Regions from separate parts of the Homo sapiens genome. Here region 1 is linked to region 2. The links come from fine-mapping of genetic effects on gene expression. A gene starts in region 2. The other region holds a variant in brackets. All regions are shown on one strand. Distances are between the middles of the regions.

Region 1 (8,000 bases), 26 kb after region 2:
GAGACAGGGTTTCATCATGTTAGCCAGAATGGTCTCAATCTCCTGACCTCGTGACCTGCCCACCTTGGCCTCCCAAAGTGCTGGGATTACAGACCTGAGCCACCGCACCCAGCCCAGGCCAATGTCTTAGAGCATTTTTCCAATGCTTTCTTCTAGTAGTTTCATAGTCTCAGGTCTCATGCTTAAGCCTTTAATTCATTTTCAGTTCATTTTTGTATAGTGTGAGAGATGGGGGTCTAGTTTCATTCTTTTGCATATGATGGTTATCGAGTTTTCCCATCACCATTTATTAAAGAAACTGTCCTTTCCCCAGTGTATGTTCTTGGTGCTTTTTTGGAAAATGAGTTGGCTATGTGTGGATTTCTGTGTTCTCTATTTTGCATTATCTCTTAATACAGAGAACAACTTTATGAGATTGGGAATCATGATCACCTCCATTTTACAGTTGAAAAAAGCTGAGGCACAAAGAGGTTAAGTTACTTGCCCAAGGTTACAAGACTGGTAAGTAGCAGAGTTAAAATGGAGAACAAGGCAGTCTAGGTCTAGGAGTCCATGCTTTTAACTCCTTCATTACCAACCAACTCTGGAAGTCTGTAAGAGGAAAAAACCATTTTATTCTACTTATTTTTCCTAACTTTGATATTATGTGTGTGTAATGTTAAGGATGGAGAAATGAATTAGAAAGCTTTTACTTAAAGTGACAGAAAATTATTGCTCTTAATATCAAATACTAGTGTATTAAATATTTCTTCTTCAAGTTACTGGAGAATATTTGAAGAACTACTTTGAAATATGGAAAACTGATACTAATTCCCCTTGAAGTTTACTTTGGAATGATTTAACAATATTTAGTGTGAAAAGGAGATAGTTTTCAGGGATGCTTAATACATTTACCCTTTACTTTAAAGATGATTTCAAGCTTTTTAGATCAGCAAGCCATCCTGTTTGTGGACACTGCTGATCGCCTGGCCTCGTTAGCTAGAGATGCTCTGGTCCATGCACGCCTGCCTAGTTTTGCCATCCCATATGCCATTGATGTACTAACTACTGGATCTTACCCACGGCTGCCAACCTGCATTAGGGTAAGTTCTTTGCTTGCCCCCATGTTCCTAAAAACTAAAGGTTTTGGCACTGGATTGGATTGTATTATTAAGTAGCCCAGCAAAAAACATTGTTAAAACAAACAGTACATATAGTTTGCTTTTTTTCTCTGTAACTAAAGTTGTGCTTTTTTGAAATAAGTTGGGGCCAGATGTGAGTAGATATCAAAATGGGTGAAGGTTTTATTTTTTTTTCCCCCAGGGATGCGCGGATGTGCAGACATAACATCTATTTCAGATGTGAAAATGCTACATGCTAGTTGCTTTTTGAAAGTGTTTTAAACTTTTATTGTTTTGGTAGTTTACTGACTTGGTGCCATATTGTATTTTATACTTGTAAGAACTTGTGGAAGCTATCAAGTGATATTTAGTTGGTTTATAAATAGAGCATTAAGGGAGGTCATGTTGTATTATGATCTTAGCTAAATGACTAGAATCATTGTTGCTCTTATGCATGATAGTAATGGCCATTGTTTTTGTAAGTAGACTGCAGAAATGAGTGTTAAGATTCTCTTAGGTAAAGTACGCAACACTGTATAAAGACAGGAAAAGATTGAAAAAAAAAATCCCCGTTTGTACATTATTTAAAAATCACTTAAATTTTTTTGCAGGACAAAATTATTCCTCCAGACCCAATTACCAAAATTGAAAAACAAGCCACACTCCATCAGCTGAATCAGATTCTTAGACATCGGCTTGTAACCACAGATCTTCCTCCTCAGTTAGCAAATCTTACAGTTGGTATGTATCTGAAATTTATTTTTTTAAGAGTTGATGGCCAGGTGCGGTGGCTCATGCCTGTAATCTCAGCACTTTGGGAGACTGAGGCAGGCAGATCACTTGAGGTCAGGAGTTTGAGACCAGCCTGGCCAACATGGTGAAACCCCATCTCTACTAAAAATACAAAAATTAGCTGGGTGCGGTGGCCCGCACCTGTAATCCCAGCTATTCGGGTGGCTGAGGCATGAGAATTGCTTGAACCTGGGAGGCAGAGGTTGCAGTGAGCCAAGATTGCACCACTGTACTCCAGCCTGGGTGACAGAATTTGCATGTTAGAATATTTTCCTAAACAGCTTTTTGGGTTTTATTCAAGGAAAAATAGCATCATGAAGATTTGACTGACAGTTTTATGGTGTTTGATTCTACGACTTGCCAGCTGTATCATTTCTCTTTAGTACCTAGAAATACAGTGCTGGTATTTGCAGCTTGGGAGTGGGGCTGGAAAGAGAGAAGAGTCCCCAGAGTTGTGCCTCAAGAAAATATTGTTCATTTATGTTAGAAGAGTTGCCTTTCATTTCTTGACCTGGAAGCTGGCTACTTCTTATTCAGGAACCATTGAATTGTTGGAACCTTATGAAAGAACCTTCAATCTATTTAAAAATTTTTATAAGTAAGACTGAAAATTCTAGGTCAGGAGGAAGATTCTCATTTTCTAGCAAAGTACACTTCTTTTTCTTCATCTTTTTCTTCTAAAAGCAAATGGCCGGGTGAAGTTTCGTGTTGAAGGAGAATTTGAAGCCACCTTGACTGTGATGGGAGATGACCCTGATGTTCCATGGCGTCTTCTCAAGCTAGAAATTCTAGTTGAGGATAAGGAAACAGGAGGTAAATCATAAGTAGTGATTTAAATCATAAGTATTAGTTTAAATGTTTGATTTTTTATATTATTGAAATATTCCCGGCTGGGGATGATGGCTCATGCTTGTAATCCCACTACTTTGGGAGGCCAAGGCAGGTGGATCGCTTGAGCTCAGGAGTTTGAGACCAGCCTAGACAATATAGCAAGACCCTGTCTCTACAAAAAATTTAAAAATTAGCCGGGCGTGGTGGTGTGTTCCTGTAGTCCCAGCTACTTGGGAGGCTGGGGTTGGGAGGTGGGAGGATCACCTGAGCCCAGGGAGGTTGAGGCTGCAATGAGCCATGATCATGCCACTGCACTCTAGCCTGGGTGACAGAGCAAGATCCTGTCTCTCTATATATATATTCCTGCAAAATAATAAATGCATGCAGCAATTTATCCTGTAATTTGAAGCAAGTTTTATAATTGTAACTGCCTGTTGACCGTGGAAGTTTCAGTGTTTCTCAGAGTACAATGTCAAGTTTCTGTAGATAATTTCAGTGCTTTTTAAAAAAATTCATTGTTATTATGTGCTTCCTTAGTTGGTATAGTGACACACTTGTACACCTATTTAATTAACTGCTTTCTTTTCTTCTGCCAACGGAAGATGGGCGAGCTTTGGTTCATAGCATGCAAATCAGCTTCATCCATCAACTGGTGCAGTCTAGGCTCTTTGCTGATGAGAAACCTCTTCAGGATATGTACAACTGCCTACGTATCCTTCTGAAATTTGAGACATATATTTGTAAGGATTTTGTGGTACCTCTCCCACATTTTTCATTTGTCCTTAGTCTTGAACTGTAGCAGCCTACATTCCTTGCCCCCATCTCCCCCACCCTTTTTGAGGTGCAGATAGGGCTGGAGAATAGTGAAGAATAGTGATATGTTTGTAATAAACCAAATTTAAAATTTTACTGTTGACTTTGCAGGTAAAAGCAAAAAGTGATTAGTTAAAAATAGTCTTGTTTGAGGCTGGGCACGGTGGCTCATGCTTGTAATCCCAGCACTTTGGGAGGCTGAGGCGGGTGTATCACTTGAGGTCAGGAATTCAAGACCTGCCTGGCCACCATGGTGAAACCCTGTCTCTACTAAAAATCCAAAAAAAAAAAAAGAAGCCTGGTGTGGTGGCGGGCACCTGTAATCCCAGCTACTAGGGAGCCTGAGACAGGAGAATCGCTTGAACCCAGGAAGCAGAGGTTGCAGTGAGCCGAGATCATGCCACTGCACTCCAGCCTGGATGACAGAGCAAGACTCCGTCACACACACACACAAAATAATAATAATAAAAAAGTACTGTTTGGTGAAAAAAATAGTACTATTTGGTCAATCCATGTTCTCTAAACTATGATGAATTAAGACACAACCCAGACTTTATGGTTTTATATTGGTTTAAAATTAAATATAAAACCTTTTTCTGAAATTATGCTATAAATTATAATACTTTTTACGATGAGGCATTGGAGAAATAATCATTTCAGAAATTTTCTTCAGAAATTTTTCTCCAGGTTTTCAATAAGAGAACCTTCCTTAAATGAAGTTCTCCTGGACTTGATTGACTGTTGGTGTAATGTATTAATTTTACTTAACAACATCTATCAGATTCTTTCTGTTTATCACTTCAGTTAGAAGTGTTACATTCCCAAACTCTAATGTTAATCCGAGAACGGTGGGGAGACCTTGTGCAGGTGGAAAGGTATCATGCTGGAAAGTGCCTCTCCCTTTCAGTTTGGAAGTAAGTAAAATCAGTTCTGGTGGGTTCGTGCTATGACTGTAAATACTCTTTTTATTTCTCTTTTTCTCTCATACATCTGATTTAATAT[A/G]CAGTTGACCCTTGGACAACACAAGCTTGAATTGTGTGGGTCCACTTATATGCAGATCAATTTGCAAGATGTGAAACCTGCGTATAGGGCCAACCTTCCCTATACGTGGGTTCTGCTGGCTGACCGCAGGACTGACTGCAGGACGTGAGTTTGCGTGGATTTTGGTATTGGGACGGGAATCCTGGAGCCAGTCTCCCAAGTATACCAAGGAATGACTGTATACCAATAGCTATGCACCTCTAGTAACATGCTTTTGTGTAGTAAGGTCCCATAGTATTATGTAGACCACATAGGACATCCATAGTTGACACCTGTCTTAGAACATGTTTTAAATACATAGACATTTACCTGTTTGTACTAAGACTTACTATTCTTAAAAAGTTTGAGAGGTTAGTTTACTTTGGGTTTATACCAAATAGCTAAAAGACCGTTAGGTTAGAAAAGACCATTAGGTTAGATTGTTGGGTATCATTTTTTAAAACATGCATGCTTATCACAGTTTTCCACTTTGAATTGTGCCTGTTAAAAACTTTCTTTGGGAGAAAATTCCTATTGGACTGTTTGTAACTCTCAATTCCCTGTTTGAACTTTACTTGATTCCTGTTTTTCTCCCCACCCCGGCATCTTATTATCCCAAATGACCCCCATTTTCTGTAAAGGAGTCAGAGGTGAGTAGATACTACTTAGAAGACAGGTAGTTTTTGTTTTGGGGTTCTTTTTCATGTGTGCATATGTTTTATTTTTAAATTATATGTCTTTTTTAAATGCAATAAATCAAATATTGTATTGGATTACAGAATAGCTATCTTCCCATTATTATTCCCTCCACAAACACTGGGGGCCTGCCGTATTCCAGGCTGTGGCTAAACTGCACAATGGATTGTCTCTATTTTATTCTAGAAGTTAACAGACTGTGTTGAAAAAAATTCTTCATTTCATTTTTTTCTTTAGTCAACAGGTTCTTGGGAGAAAAACTGGAACAGCATCTGTTCACAAAGTTACAATTAAAATTGATGAGAATGATGTCTCCAAGCCTTTACAGATTTTTCACGATCCTCCTTTGCCAGCTTCTGATTCCAAATTAGTAGAAAGAGCCATGAAGGTAAAAGATCTCAATATATTTTCATATTGGTTTAAATGAATGTAACTTGCCATTTATCCTTAAACTCTTAGCACAAATTTTTAAAAATATCTAATTCTTCCTAAAACCTTTTATGAAACTTATTTTAAGTAAATGTTACACTTCTTACATTTGTTTTTTTAAAACATCTGATACTATAATATATAATTTTTAAGATATTCTTTCATATTTTATAATTTAGATCAGATACCATTTTAATTTTAAGGTCTGGCATTAGAGCACCATAACTGATTTGTAATATCTTCTCCTATTACTTACCAAAATGTTAACTATAGTTTTTAAGCTATCAATTGTAAGTTAATTTTTAACTCAATACCATATTAGTTAATTTTTAACTTTAAGTTTGCTTTCTATTAGGGTTAACACTTAATCAGTGTGATTCCAAAAGGAAATATTTTGAAGCACAGTAATCTACTCTTGGGCTTTTAAAGTAAAAATGTTTAAATTGCACATTTGAATTTGTTGTTCTTATTTATGCAGATCGACCACTTATCAATAGAAAAACTCCTGATTGACAGTGTCCATGCAAGAGCTCATCAGAAGCTCCAAGAACTGAAGGCCATTCTTAGAGGCTTCAATGCCAATGAAAACTGTAGGTTCTTTTAAATTGACATTTGTTTTTCTTTTGTTTAAACTAGAATCCAGTTTTATTTGATGAGAATCTTAATATGACTTTTTCTTGATATTTTGCTTTTATTGTGGAAGCTGGTATTTCTGCATTTTAACTTGTGATCTGCCAAACTTATGCTAATTTTTCCCTTGTTACTTATTTAGCTTGGCCTTATTTTTGAAATATTTGTGTATTGGATTTCCTTAAAACTTTATGAAATGGGGCTGGGCATGGTGGCTCACACCTGTAATACCAGCACTTTGGGAGGCCGAGATGTAAGGATCACTTGAGGCCAGGAGCTTTAGACAAGCCAGGGCAAAAAATGAGACCCCGTCTCTATTTATAAAATTTTTTAAATAAAAAAGAAAAACTTTATGAAACATGAGCTAACATTTTAATATGAACCTTATTTTTAAACTTTTTTCTAGTGATAAAACAGCATTCCAAATATTTATAATATACTTGTAAAATATGCCCCTTTGAGTGAAGCAGAATTCATCCCTTGTCTTTTTAAAAAATTTTTAAAAATTATTAACAGTTCAAATAAGGAATGCAGATACATGGACATAGTGAAAAATCTTCCAAGTTTAATTACCTAGTAAGTATATTCAGAGCTTTGAGGGACAGTCATTTAGAAAGTAAACCCTTTCATTCTGGGAATATAGGTTCGCAACATCATAATGGGCATATTTACTATCCCTGCCCCAATTGTTTTTGGCCATAATTACCTTGTGCCCACAGTGCACAGTCTTTAATTAAGTTAGATGACGTAAGTGAAGTGCCTTATAAGTAGGAAGTCTTAATAGTGCTAGTAACGAAGGTGCTGCCTTTTGTCATCACAGAGCTCAGCTCAATCCATTATACTTAAAGAAGCAGCTTCTTAGGTATGTACTAGTAACTCTGGATTAAAATCACTTTGACAGAAATAGATTTTAAAAAATTGCCTGAAGGAAAGACAGAAAGTTAGAAAAATAAGTGTGTATTTAGAATACATACTCATTCAAGGAAAGTGAAAAGATAGAGGTGAAAGAGGGGATCTAAGATAAACCAAAGCATTAGCTTATATTTTTAAAGAGACTAAGGAGAGGGGCAGCCTAACTTAACAAAAATGCAAATATGGGCCTTAAAAAAGAAATAAAGGATCTGCCAGAAATTTGGTGAATGTATTGGTTAGATGTGTCTTGGGGGTGCCTGTCCATTAGCCCTATCAGGGTTTAACATTAGCTTTATCAGTACTTCATTATCTTAATTTAATTAAAAGCTTCAGTAGAAGGCCCTCCCCTTTAATCCCTCAAGCAAAGATGTTAAATACAGACCTAAAAATTATGATTGGAAAGTATAATTGAAACTCTCACTGGAATTAGAAAGGCTACTAACCACCACTGCCTTTTCGTCTTTTTTTCTTAACAGCTTTATTGAGATATAATTCACATATAATTACCTCATTCAATGGTTTTTACTGAAAGAGTTGTGCAACTATCACCACAATTTGATTTTAGAACATTTTAATCATCCCAGAAAGAAACCGTGTACCCATTAGCAGTCACAACCCATTCACTCCTCTCCCTTCCTGCCTCCCTTTTGGCAATCATTAATCTACTTTCTAACTCTATAGATTTGCCTATTTGGACATTTCATATAAATGGAATCATAATGTGTGGTCTCTTACATACTGTTTTTAACACATTTTTTTTGAGGTTCACAGCATGTT
Region 2 (12,104 bases):
TTTTAAGTGAAATAAATAGTTTATTAAATTTTTTCTTTCTCATAGACATGTGTGACAATTTACCTACACTAGATATTCCTAGAATATGCACATGACTGAAAGAGTTTTCTGATCAATTATATTCAAAATTTCCCATTGCCTAGGGAAGGCCAGGATGGAAGGGGTAGGAGGAATGGGAGACTGGTGCTATGTATCTATGATTGCATCCTGACAATCTTCAGCCACCCCTATTCTTTTTTTCCACTGGCCCTTAGTGCCTGGTAAGCCTGACTGGTTTCAGCCTAAGGTTAGGCAACAGGAGGAAGGTGACTGCAACCTTTTGCTTCTGCTATGACTTGGTTTCAGGTGTTGGATATGGAAGAGTGCTGGCCATGAGGATAATAGTTGGTGAAATTCATGGGCACTAGAGTATCCCTACAGTGGCCTGCTTGGGCAATGTTAGAGGACATCACAGGCTGTTGCAAGTTCTACCCATGGTGCCCAGTTCCCATGAGCCTTCGTCCATCTGGGTAGAGGTGGTGGATGGCTGGGCGAAAGGAGAAATAGTGGCTACTGATTTAAAACAAATGGACTATATGGAAAGAGCAATAAACCTGGGACCTGGGGAAGGAATACCTTAGTCTCCAGGAGGTGTGGGAAGGGGGGAAACATTTAATGCTTTCTTTGTCCCCTAGATGTAGCACTGCAGCATGGCAAAACAATCACATGGTCCACCTGAGTCAGGCGGCAGCTGCAATTGGCAACACAACGCTGCTGCTGGGTTTACCATCCCCATCCTCATGCTATAAAAACAGAACACTCATGTAGGTATGGCAGGATCTGAACTATTTCACTGTGCATGACACTCTCACAATAGCAGCACTGTTTAGCCATACCTGACACCCTCACAATAACATGACTATTTGGCTGTGCATGACACCTCAGCTCCTTCCTCATATGTGCACCAAGGCAACTTTGCTTCAATCTGACTGGTAAGAATTAACGCATGGAGCCCTCAGCCCTGGGTTCCATTAGCTATGGCACAACTCACTGTGCATATAGTCTCCATGCTCATCACAACACTCCGTGAGACTTGGAGGCACTGGAACCAGAGCTACCATGCTCATGCCCCTGCTATTTGCCCTGGTGTCTTACTCTGATTTCATTGTTTATTTTGAGCAGCTATGGATGGCAGGTTTACTCCTTGCCCCTTCCAGAGGTGAGGGGGCTCTTCTCCAACAAAGAGAACAAGGCAAGACAAGATTTTTATCTCTTAATGAAGAATATAATAATTCTAAATGGACTCCTTCCCTCCTCCTCGTTTCTATTTCTAGTAATGCCCTTCTTTTTCTTCTTCTTTTGTTCACCCATTAGAAAACATTTATTTAAAAGACACTGAATTTTAGCATAGCTAGAAAATTTTAAGATTATAAAATTGTATAAGTTTTTTTTAAGAGTTCCTCAGAAACATTCTTTTCAAGGCCTGAAACCAAAACTGTTAAAATATTTGACACTTTTATCTCTTTCATAGGCAATTATAATTGAAGTTTCCGTGTAGTTTTCTTTTTTATGTTAGACACTCTGTAAATTAGAAATTTTTAAATCTGAAAATGAATAGATATATATTAAAGGCTGTTCATTAGGAAAGAGAAAAGATCTGGGCCTTTAGTTGGCTCCCCATTTCCAGTCTTTTTTTTGAACTTTTATTATGTATATTCTGAAACACAGAAAAGAAGACTATAATGAACGCCCATGTATTCATCATCAGCTTTAACAACTGTCAACATTCTGCTAATCTTATTTCATGTAACTCCCCAACATTTTTTTCTGAAGCATTTTTAAAAAAATCCTGAGGCCAGGCATGGAGGCTCACACCTGTAATTCTAACACTTTGGGAGGCCAAGGTAGGAGGATTGCTTGAGGCCAGCTTGAGGCCAGGTGTTCAAGATCAGCTGGGGCAATATAGCAAGACCTCCTTTTTACAAAAAAAAAAAAAAATTAAAAATCAGCTGGGTGCAGTAATGTGTGCCTGTAGTCTCCGCTGAGGCAGGAAGATCACTTGAGCCCAGAAGATAGAGGTTGCAGTGAGCTATGATTGTGCCATGGCACTCCAGCCTAGGCAATAGAGTGAGACCCTGTCCCCTCTCCCCTCCACAAAAAAATCCTGACACTTTATTTCATGTAAATATATGTAAGTCAATGTTTGTTTGTTTGTTTGTTTGTTTAGACAGAGTCTTGCTCTTGTCACCCAGGCTGGGGTGCAATGGCACAATCTCGGCTCACTACAACCTCTGCCTCCTGGGTTCAGTCAATTCTCCTGCCTCAGCCTCCCAAGTAGCTGGGATTACAGGTGCCCACCACCACATCCGGCTAATTTTGTATTTTTTTTTAGTAGAGACGGGGTTTCTCCATGTTGGCCAGGCTGGTCTCGAACTCCTGACCTCCTGATCTGCCTGCCTTGACCTCCCAAAGTGCTGGAATTACAGGCGTGAGCCACTGCGCCCAGCCTGTAAGTCAATATTAATCCTACAAAAGTAAATGTAATACAAATAGAACTATAGCATATAAATGAAGAAATATTAGGTTGGTGCAAAAATATATTCATCCCATTCATTCATTAAAGCCAGGTAGCTAGGCACTATGGTAGGTGGGGAGATCAGAAAGATAGCCACATGAGGACAGAAGAAGAAAGTTCACAGGTTATTAGGTGAATAAGCAAATACAAGACTTACTGATCCTAAATGATGATGATCACTTACTGTTTGATCATCAAAGGATGAAGACCACTTACTATTTTAAGCCCTTTGCACATGTCAACTCATTAATTCTTCACAATCATCCTTTGAGGTAAGCAGTATTATTACAGATGAAGAAACTGAGATCACGCAAAGTAAAGTAACTTGCTGGAGAGCGTTCAGATAGTGTGTGGTAGAGCTAGGATTTGAATCTAAGCAGTCTGATTTCAGGGGCTGTGCTCTAAGGGGAAAAAAAGAGGAGACTACTTTAATATTGTGGTAAAAACAATGCTATCTGTTCATCATACTATTTCATTTCTTCCCTAAGCACACAAGAAGACCATATTTTCCAGGTCCCTAGCCTTTAAATGGGCTGTATGACTAATTCTGGCTAATGGAACATGGGTGGACACACACAAAAAAAATTCTCATATAGTGATGGCTTCCCAAGATGGAAGAAGCTTGGGTCTCCGAGTTACTACTTAGAGGACCATCCCCATCAGGTACATCTTTATTGAGATTCATGAGCATGAGAAATAAACTCTTACTCTGTTAAGTCACCAAGATTTTGGAGTTTGTAATGGTAGCTAGTGTAAATTATACTGATAGAAACATTTAAATTTAAATGTTTTAAAATTATGAAATATTTAAAAATATTGAAAAGTACAGAATATATTAACAATCAGATCTCTATCCCCTGATTTAATAGATATTAATATTGTCACATTTCCTTTATGTTTTTCTTCCAGAAATCCATTAGATAAAATAGCTAGTAACCAATAAAGCATCATCTTATCCTTTAGCCCTCCCTAGAAGTAACTACTATCCTGAAGGTGGTATATATCATCCCCATTTATATTTTTTACTTTTACTACACAATATACTAAATTATAGAGTATTATTTTGTGTGCTTTTCTTTTCTCTTTTTTTTTTTTTTGACATAAGGTCTTGCTCTATTGCCCAGGCTGGCATGCAGTGGTGTGATCTCAGCTCACTGCAACCTCTGCCTCCCAGGCTCCAGCAATCCTCCCACCTCAGCCTCCCGAGTAGCTGGGACCACAGGTGCATGCCATCACACCTAGCTAATTTCTTGCATTTTTTGTAGAGACAGAGTCTTGTTGTGTTGACCAGGCTGGTCTCGAACTCCTGGGCTCAGGTGATCTGCCCGCTTCGGCCTCCCAAAGTGCTGAGATTACAGGCATGAGCCACCGTGCCCGGCTTTTGTGTGCTTTTAAAATGGACACAAGTGGTATCAGAAAGATTGCTTTTCTTTATTCAGTATTGTTTTTAAGATGTATTCATGTCAGTTTACGTAGCTGTAATACATTTGAACAGTTACATAAAAATATATTTATTTATTTATTTATTTTTATTTTTGGGACAGAGTCTTGCTCTGTCACTCAGGCTGGAGTGCAGTGGCGGATCTCGGCTCACTGCAACTGCGCCTCCCGGGTTCAAGCAATTCTTGTGCCTCGGTCTCCCAAGCAGTTGGGATTACAGGCTTGCACCACCACGCTCAGCTAATTTGTTTTTGTTGTTGTTGTTGTTGTTGTTGTTTTTGTATTTTTAGTAGAGACGGAGTTTTCATCATGTTGGCCAGGCTGGTCTGGAACTCCTGGCCTCAAGCAATTAGCTGGCCTCAGCCTCCCAAAGTGCTGGGATTACAGGTATAAGCCACCATGCCTGGGCAAAAATATAGTTTACTTATCTATTCTCCTACTGAGAGACAGTTAAGATTGTTCATATTTTCTTGCTTCTACAAATAAAGCTGCAATGAAGTTCCTTGTACATGCCTAATGTAATATAGTCAGGAAAGCCTCTCTGAGGATTTTATCATTAAACTGATACTTGAAGGATGAGAAGCCAGCCAGGAAACAATATTTCAAGTATCTGCAACATAATGCAAGCTATCTTCAGTGGGAGGGAATGGCATGTACTATGTAGTGAAGTTACAGTGTAGTAAGGGAATAAGTGGCAGGAGATGGGGAGTTTATTGAAATTTCTGTGAGTTGAATAGGTATCTTTAAAAATGGAAAAGTACTATTTATCAAAAAGAATGTTCTAAAGAAAAATAAGGTGAAAATTCAGCAATAGGACTATGAAACTTACTGTGCTTGAATTATTGGAGACCAGAGAGGTAAAGTAAATGAAAGCTCCTGAGTGCAGTGATATCCCACCTCCCAACCAGATAGTGTTACCAAAATGCCAGGGGTTTGGTCTAGGTCCCATTGCTCCCTGCACAGAAAGCCAATCACTGAGACAACGACTGTTGCCAGGGAAGTAGTCATTCCATCTCTCTGACTGACTAAAATTGGGGGTTTATATAGTGGGAAAGGAATGTAACTACATGTGGGTAAACAGGAATTAGGGAGAGGTAAGGAAATCATGAAGGATGAGGGACCTGGCTTCTCATTGTCTAGATATGGTGACCTGGTTTCAGTTTCTTGAAACTATCTGGGAGGCATGAAGGTTATTTTCCCGAGGAAGGAACTCAGTTAAGACAAATATAAGTTTCAAGCTTTAAAACTGGAAGGGTCAATATCTATGTTTATTTTAGAAGACTGTAAACATCGGTTCTATGGGACAATTGGGCTGGTTTCAGTAACATAGCCACTTGGCAAACATAGGAAGGGCTAGTAAAATAAATTAATGGGGAAGGAAAGAAAATGTTAGCATGTTTGGCTGAGTTACTAAATAAATGACCCATATTCAAACCACTTTTGGAAAGTTTCCAATTTATCATTTTAAAGCTTACAGTACAATATTTGACACTATAGTATAGGTACATACTTCTTTCATTCACATTTTTCAGTTGTTCCCCTATTTGGTGATCACCTGATTCACACTTCAGATCGTTTCAGAACTAGCAGCATGATATTTTCTCAGCTCTTAAATTGACTTAAATGCTTCAGATGTTTCATGAGATTAATCTGATTTTAACAAAAGGAACAAAAAATATTGAAAACATGGAGAAAAAGGGGAATTTCCTTTAAAGCTCTTTTGATGGAAAAATGAAATTATGATACATATGGTTTCATTTAATGTACAGCTGCCCCTCAGACTCAAAAGGGTTGAAAAGGAATTGAAAAGTAATTTTTTTCATTATTTTGATAAGATTTGCAATCACTTCTATCCAAAAGCAAGAGCAGAAACTGCATTCATTCAACAGATGCGGCATTCATAGTGAAGTCGAGAGGAGGAACCATGGGCATGGTCTGACCAACCTAGAAAAAAATGAGAACATTGTAATGGCTTTGCATTTAGAATAAAACCCAAACTTCTTACTGTGGCCTCTAAAGCCATTAGCAGAGTAGCCTTTGCCTGCCTCTCTATGCAAATTAAAACCACACAATTAATTTGTGTAGGGAGCAAACAAATTTTGTTAGAATGTCTATAATCAAAAAGATGAAAGATAACAAGTGTTGGTGAAGGTGTGGAGAAAAAGGAACCCTTGTACACTATTGATGTGAATGTAAATTTGTAGTACACCCATTTTGGAAAACAGTATGGAGGTTCCTTAAGAAACTAAAAATAGAATTACTACAGGATGCAGCAATCTTACTTCTGGGTATATATCCAAAGGAACTGAAATCAGTATGTTGAAGAGATATCTGCACTCCCATGTTCATTGCACCATTATTCATAATAGCTAAGATGCGGAATCAAAGTGTCCATCAACCAATGAATGAATTAAAAAATGTGGTATAAATATACAACAGAATACTATTCAGCCTTAAAAAAGAATGAAATTCAGGCCGGGCATGGTGGCTCATGCCTGTAATCCCAGCACTTTGGGAGGCCAAGGTGGGTGGATCACCTGAGGTCAGGAGTTTGAGACCAGCCTGGCCAACATGGCGAAACCCCATCTCTACTAAAAATATAAAAATTTAAAAAAAATTAGCTGGGCGTGGTGGCACGTGCCTGTAATCCCAGCTACTCAGGAGGCTGAGGCAGGAGAATCGCTTGAACTTGGGACGCGAGGTTGTAGTGAGCCAAGATCGCGTCACTGCATTCCAGCCTGGGCGACAGAGCGAGACTCTGTCTCAAAAAAAAAAAAAAAAAAAAAAAGTAAAGAGTAGAATGGTGGTTACCACCAGAGGCCGGGTAGGACAGTGGGTGGAGAAAGGGGAAATATTAGTCAAAGGGTACAAAGTTTCAGTTAGATAGGCGGAATAAGTTCTGGTGATCTATTGCACAGCAATGTGACTACAATTAGCAATAACCTTTTGTATCTTCCAAAGTTGCTAAAAGTGGATTTTAAATGTTCTCACCAAAAGAAGTAAGTATGTATATCATTTGATAGATGTTAATAGCCTGATTTGCTCATTCCACAATGGTTACATGTTTCAAAACATCACATTGTATGCCATAAGTATATACTATCAATTAAAAATAAAAATAATATTTAAAAATAAGGTAGCTGCCTTCCAGCAACTGTATCTGTAAGGGGTATAAATAATCCCAATGCATTTTAATAACTAGCACAATGATATTCTGTTTCAATGTGCTTTAGGACCACCAAGGGAGGGAACAAGTGAGCTTACACCTTCAGAAGCAGATGAACCGCTTTCAACAATGATAAAGAATTACCCAAGTGATGACAGTAAGAATATTCTAACCTTAGGGAACATCATGAACATCTCTTACACCAAGAGGAGATGAAACTGCAAAAAGATGTTTGAAAGGGGTCGCAGCAACGAATGCTTCTAATAGTGAATCTCTACGTTAGGGCATGTTAGAATCACCTTAGGAAAGTTCAAAAATTCCCCAAGCCCAGACCTCAAGCCAGACCAATTAAATCTGAATCTACAGGGGTGGAACCCATATATCTAAGTATTTTTTTAAAAAACAGCTCCTCAGATAATTGCAAAGTGCAGCCAAGGTTGAGAATCGCTGTTTTAAAGCAGGTACAAAAAATTAAACGTGGACTTTGATGGGGGGGACGGGAGTGTCGGTAGGCATGGATGAACTGAAAAGCCCTTCAGAATAGAGCGGTGACTGCAAGAGCAAGGACAAAAACTATATGAGAGCCCGTGGCAGGGGATTTAAGGGCCGTTTTTGTGTGGGACTGACAGGATTTGGGGGATGGTGACGACCTCAGCATACACCCGACTCTATTAAAATTGAGTTACTCTGCCAGCGGCCCTGTCTCTACCCGCAATCATATTTTCTAGCACCTTTTCCCACAGTTTGGAAAAAAAAAAAAAGGGGCGAAAACGTTCTCCCACGTAACGCGCCGTGGACGTGTATGGGAGGAGCAAAGGCCTGAGAATCACAAGCGCGCGGCCGCTCCCATTTCTTCGCGATTCCAGAACCAGAATTCACGAACATTTAGAGGAGGCCTCCCCTGGCTGTGTTTGTGCCCCACTTAGGAAGCGATGGTGGATTTCTCTGGGCAAATTGTCGCCTTTACAACGCCAGGGGGCGGAGGCGGGAGGGAGAGCGGCGAGGGTAAGGGCGGGGCAACTGCTGACGTTCCCGGTGACGACTCCGGCTCAGCCCTCACCCTGGTTTCCGGCGGCGCGCGGCTCCCTTTTCCGCTCTCCCGCGCGCTCACAGGTACCGCCTCACTCCCACGCGCCCCCCAGCGCTGCGGTGCTAGACAGCTGAGAGAACAGACACAGACCTGTCGGAAGGTCCTCTGCAGGTCCCCCTTCCGCTCTGCCGATCGACTTCCGCCTCGGGCAGTCAACATGTACGTTGCGGCTGTCTGGCGAAGCTGCTTCTGAGCGTTTGCGGAGGCGCAGCTTCCCCTCTGCGGGGCCGCCCTGCTTCCCCCCCATCCCCGCCTCCCCCCGCCCCTCGCTCCTGTCCCTGGGGTCGGCGGACTTCTCGCTACATGGGGGCGGGCTTCCGCGGTCGGCGCACGGCTTCCTGTTCTGAGGCGGCCCGGCGGTAGGCGGTGGCGACTCTGCCCGCTCCCGTTTCGGCGCGGTGACCGAGCGCCCGGGAGGCTCGAGGACCGCATCGTGTGCCGTTGCGCCAAGCCCGGTCCTGCGCCGCCATGGCCCCAGTGCAGCTGGAGAACCACCAGCTGGTCCCGCCCGGAGGCGGCGGCGGGGGCAGCGGCGGACCCCCGTCAGCCCCAGCCCCTCCTCCCCCGGGAGCCGCCGTGGCGGCGGCCGCTGCAGCTGCGGCTAGCCCGGGCTACCGGCTGAGCACCCTCATTGAATTTCTGCTGCACCGGGCCTACTCGGAGCTTATGGTGTTGACGGACCTGTAAGTGCCCCGAAACCCCTGCCTGTTCCCCAGCCCCCCTTCCCGCCCAACCGGCTGAGACGTTTGCACCTCCCTCTCCCCGAGAGGCTGCTGTGTTCTCCGCTGGACTGCTTAGTCTAGAATTTTTGAACTCCTGGGGTTCAGCAGAGGTGGAGAAGAAGCTTTGTATCTGGGGTCTTCCTGGCAACGATGCAACAGAGACTTGTTAATTTTGCGTGTTGTTACACTTCCACTGAAAATTGTGTGAAATTTTTGTCCGAGTTCCCAACAGAACTCTCTTGATTTCTTGGCTGGAATACATAATATTCGAGCTTTTAGAAAAAACTCTATAGATGGGAAATTTGTATTACAGCCTCTTGACGATACGTTTTAAATGTAAGCTGTTATTGCTTCTAAGTTAATGCAGGAGCTACATACGTTGTGTATAAAATACAAATTTGAATTCAAAGTACTTTTTTTCTGGAACTTTTGAGTGTTTGAGGTCTTAATGAAGTTAGTGTGAGTAAAATTTTTTTGTAAGTAGTCTGTTATTTCTTGGAGTATGAAGGGGGTTTATAAATCACCTAGTTACCCATGAAATGCCTTGGGGCATGATTAAGTTGTTAATCCCTTCAGAATAGGATCAGAATATACTAACGAATTTCAGTGTGTGAAGAAAAGGCACCGTAACATTTTGGGACTCTGTTGTACATCTTATAACCCAGGTTCAGAAAAAGTTAATCAGAATTTTATTTTTTATCTATTGCAAGACTTCAGATCAGGGTTATCAATTGAGATACATTAGTATGCAGATATTAGGCTCTAAAGCGTCACAGTAATTTGTTTTTAGAGACTGATAACAGATACTTGTTTGCAGATGACTGAAAGAGTAGGCTCTACTTAACTCCTGTAAAACGTCATTCTCAGTTTTGATGTATTGTACTTTTTTGAATGGGACAGAAAAAAGTAGTGTTAAAGAAGCCTACCCATGGCTAATGAGAAATTTAAATCGCTGTCAGGTTTAGGGACTATTATAATGATATACCTCTCTGCACCATTTATTGTTGGATTTCATAAAAATCCAAGAATATCCATGAGAAAGTTTCATGTATGTGCCTATATAGAGCTGTGGGAAAAAAAATGTTGAAAACTGCTGCTATCGGTGGTGTAATTTGCTTTTCCATAGGGGATTTGTAGAAATTCCTTGAATTGTGGTTGTCTTTTTACTATTTTAGGACTTGGCTTATGAAGAGAGGAACATCTGTTTTATTGCCGTAGAATAAGTATGTAGTTATAGTCCCACACCCTTTATGTGATGGTTCCCATATTTGTATCTCCAGCACAGACCTCTCTGATGAACTCCAGACTCTATATCCAGATGCCTACATTTCAGTATCTTGATGGGCATTTCAACATAGCAACTCCAGCACCAAACTCCTGATTCCACTGTCCTCCCTCCTGCAGAACCTTCTTTGCTATCTCACTAGTCTCTCCATTCTTCCTGTTGTTGCTCAGGCCAAATATTTTGGAATAACTCCTGGCTCCTCTCTCTTCACATCCTACATACATCAGCAAGTCCTGTTATCTTTGACTTCAGAGTCTGACCATTTCTCAACACTTCCACCAAGTGCTGGTCCAAGCCACCTAATCCTTCACCTGTGTACTGCAATAGTCAGTTCACTGGTATCTCTGTAGTTCCCTTGCCCCTTCTATAGTTTCTTCTCCACAAAATAGCCAGGATGATTCTTTTAAAATTTCTCTGCTTAGAACCCTTCGATGGTTCCCCATCTCACTGAGATTAAAAAGTGTTGATAATTGCCAGGTGTGGTGGCTTATACCTGTAATCCCAGCACTTTGGGAGGCTGAGGCAGGGGAGGGGGTCACTTGAGCCCAGGAGTTCGAGACTCTGTCTCTACCAAAAATAGAAAATTAGCTGGGTGTGGTGGCCCAAGCCTGTAGTTCCAGCTACTTGGAAGGTGGAGGTGGGAGGATTGCTTGGGCCCAGGAGGTTCGCTTGAGCCCAGGAGGTTGAGGCTGCAGTGAGCATGTTCGCACCACTGCACTCCAGACTGGGTGACAGTGAGATCCTATCTCAAAAAAAAAAAAAAAAATATTGATAATCATCTGTATAGTGACCATAAAATTTATAGTCCAAACCGGGACACTTTTGAGCATAATGGGGCTGATGATAATAATGTCAGAACAAGAGGCATAAACCAGGACTGTCTTGGGCAAACCAGAAAACCAGAACATGTGGTCATCTTACCTTTAAGGCCTTACATGATGTGCCTTCTCTGTTCCTTAACCTTTTTTTTTTCTCCAACCTCTTAACCACTTTTGGTTTGTCCCTTACCTCTTTAACTGCATGTCCTGAAACTCTCCTCTTTGCTTATCCTGTTCCGACCACATTACCCTTCCTGATGTTTCTTTTTTATTTTTGAGACAGGGTCTCACTCTGTTGCCCAGGCTGGAGTGCAGTGTGGCACAGTCATGCTCACTGCAGCCTCTCGACATGGGCTCAACTGCTCCTCCTGCCTCAGCCTCCCAAATAGCTGGAACTACAGGCATGCGCCACCACGCCCAGCTAATTTTTTTATTTTTGGTAGAGACAAGAGTCTCACTATGTTGCCCAGGCTGATCTTGAACTCCTGGGCTTAAGCAGTCCTCCCACCTCTGCCTCCCAAACCTTTTTTTTTTTTTGAGACAGAGTCTCACGGTGTTGCCCAGGCTGGAGTGCAGTGGTGTGATCTCGGCTTGCTGCAGCCTCCGCCTCCCGGGTTCAAGTGATTCTTGTGCCTCAGCCTCCCGAGTAGCTGCGATTACAGGCATGCACCACCACACCTGGTTAATTTTTGTATTTTTAGTAGAAATGGGATTTCACCATGCTGACCAGGCTGGTCTCAAACTCCCAACTTCAGGTGATCTACCCGCCTTGGCCTTCCAAAATGCTGGGATTACAGGCGTGAGCCGCTGTGCCCAGCCTCCAAACCTTCTTGATGTTTCTTGTTAGTGCCTAGCACACTGCCATCTTAGAGCCTTTGCTTTTTCCCTAGAAATCTGTGTGAATTGCTTTCTCATTAGTCCTTTAGGTCCTTGTTTACATACAATTTATCAGAAAGATTTTCTCTGACCACCTATAAAATAGTACTCTGCCCCTTCACTCTGTCCTTCTTACTTGCTGCTTTATTTTTC

Which allele goes with the higher level. Alleles are on the strand shown, and positions count from the first base shown. SD is a standard deviation of normalised expression in the study named.
In carriers of allele A in region 1, the expression in cerebellum of the gene that starts at base 8,589 in region 2 tends to be lower than with G alone (large effect, 0.83 SD a copy in GTEx).

The links.
Region 1: its variant is fine-mapped to the expression of MED14 in cerebellum (GTEx, PIP above 0.99). The same link has a PIP of 0.9 or more in cerebellar hemisphere.

The regions. Positions count from the first base shown.
Region 1 is chrX:40,707,619-40,715,618 of GRCh38, reverse strand. It overlaps MED14 (mediator complex subunit 14), which reads left to right. Exons shown (of 31, transcript NM_004229.4): 4 at 909-1,082; 5 at 1,712-1,841; 6 at 2,577-2,705; 7 at 3,326-3,433; 8 at 4,318-4,450; 9 at 5,490-5,640; 10 at 6,160-6,271. Among named protein-coding and RNA genes, the nearest start is that of MED14, 24 kb to the left of the region's middle. The variant A/G (reference allele first, on the strand shown) is at 4,539.
Region 2 is chrX:40,732,027-40,744,130 of GRCh38, reverse strand. MED14 (mediator complex subunit 14) reads left to right here and starts at 8,589. Exons shown (of 31, transcript NM_004229.4): 1 at 8,589-8,933. The coding sequence starts at 8,719. It overlaps MED14OS (MED14 opposite strand), which reads right to left and starts at 8,441. Exons shown (of 2, transcript NR_169211.1): 1 at 8,341-8,441; 2 at 5,433-5,938. RefSeq lists enhancers at 7,377-8,297, 8,298-9,219 and silencers at 8,252-8,341, 8,602-8,981.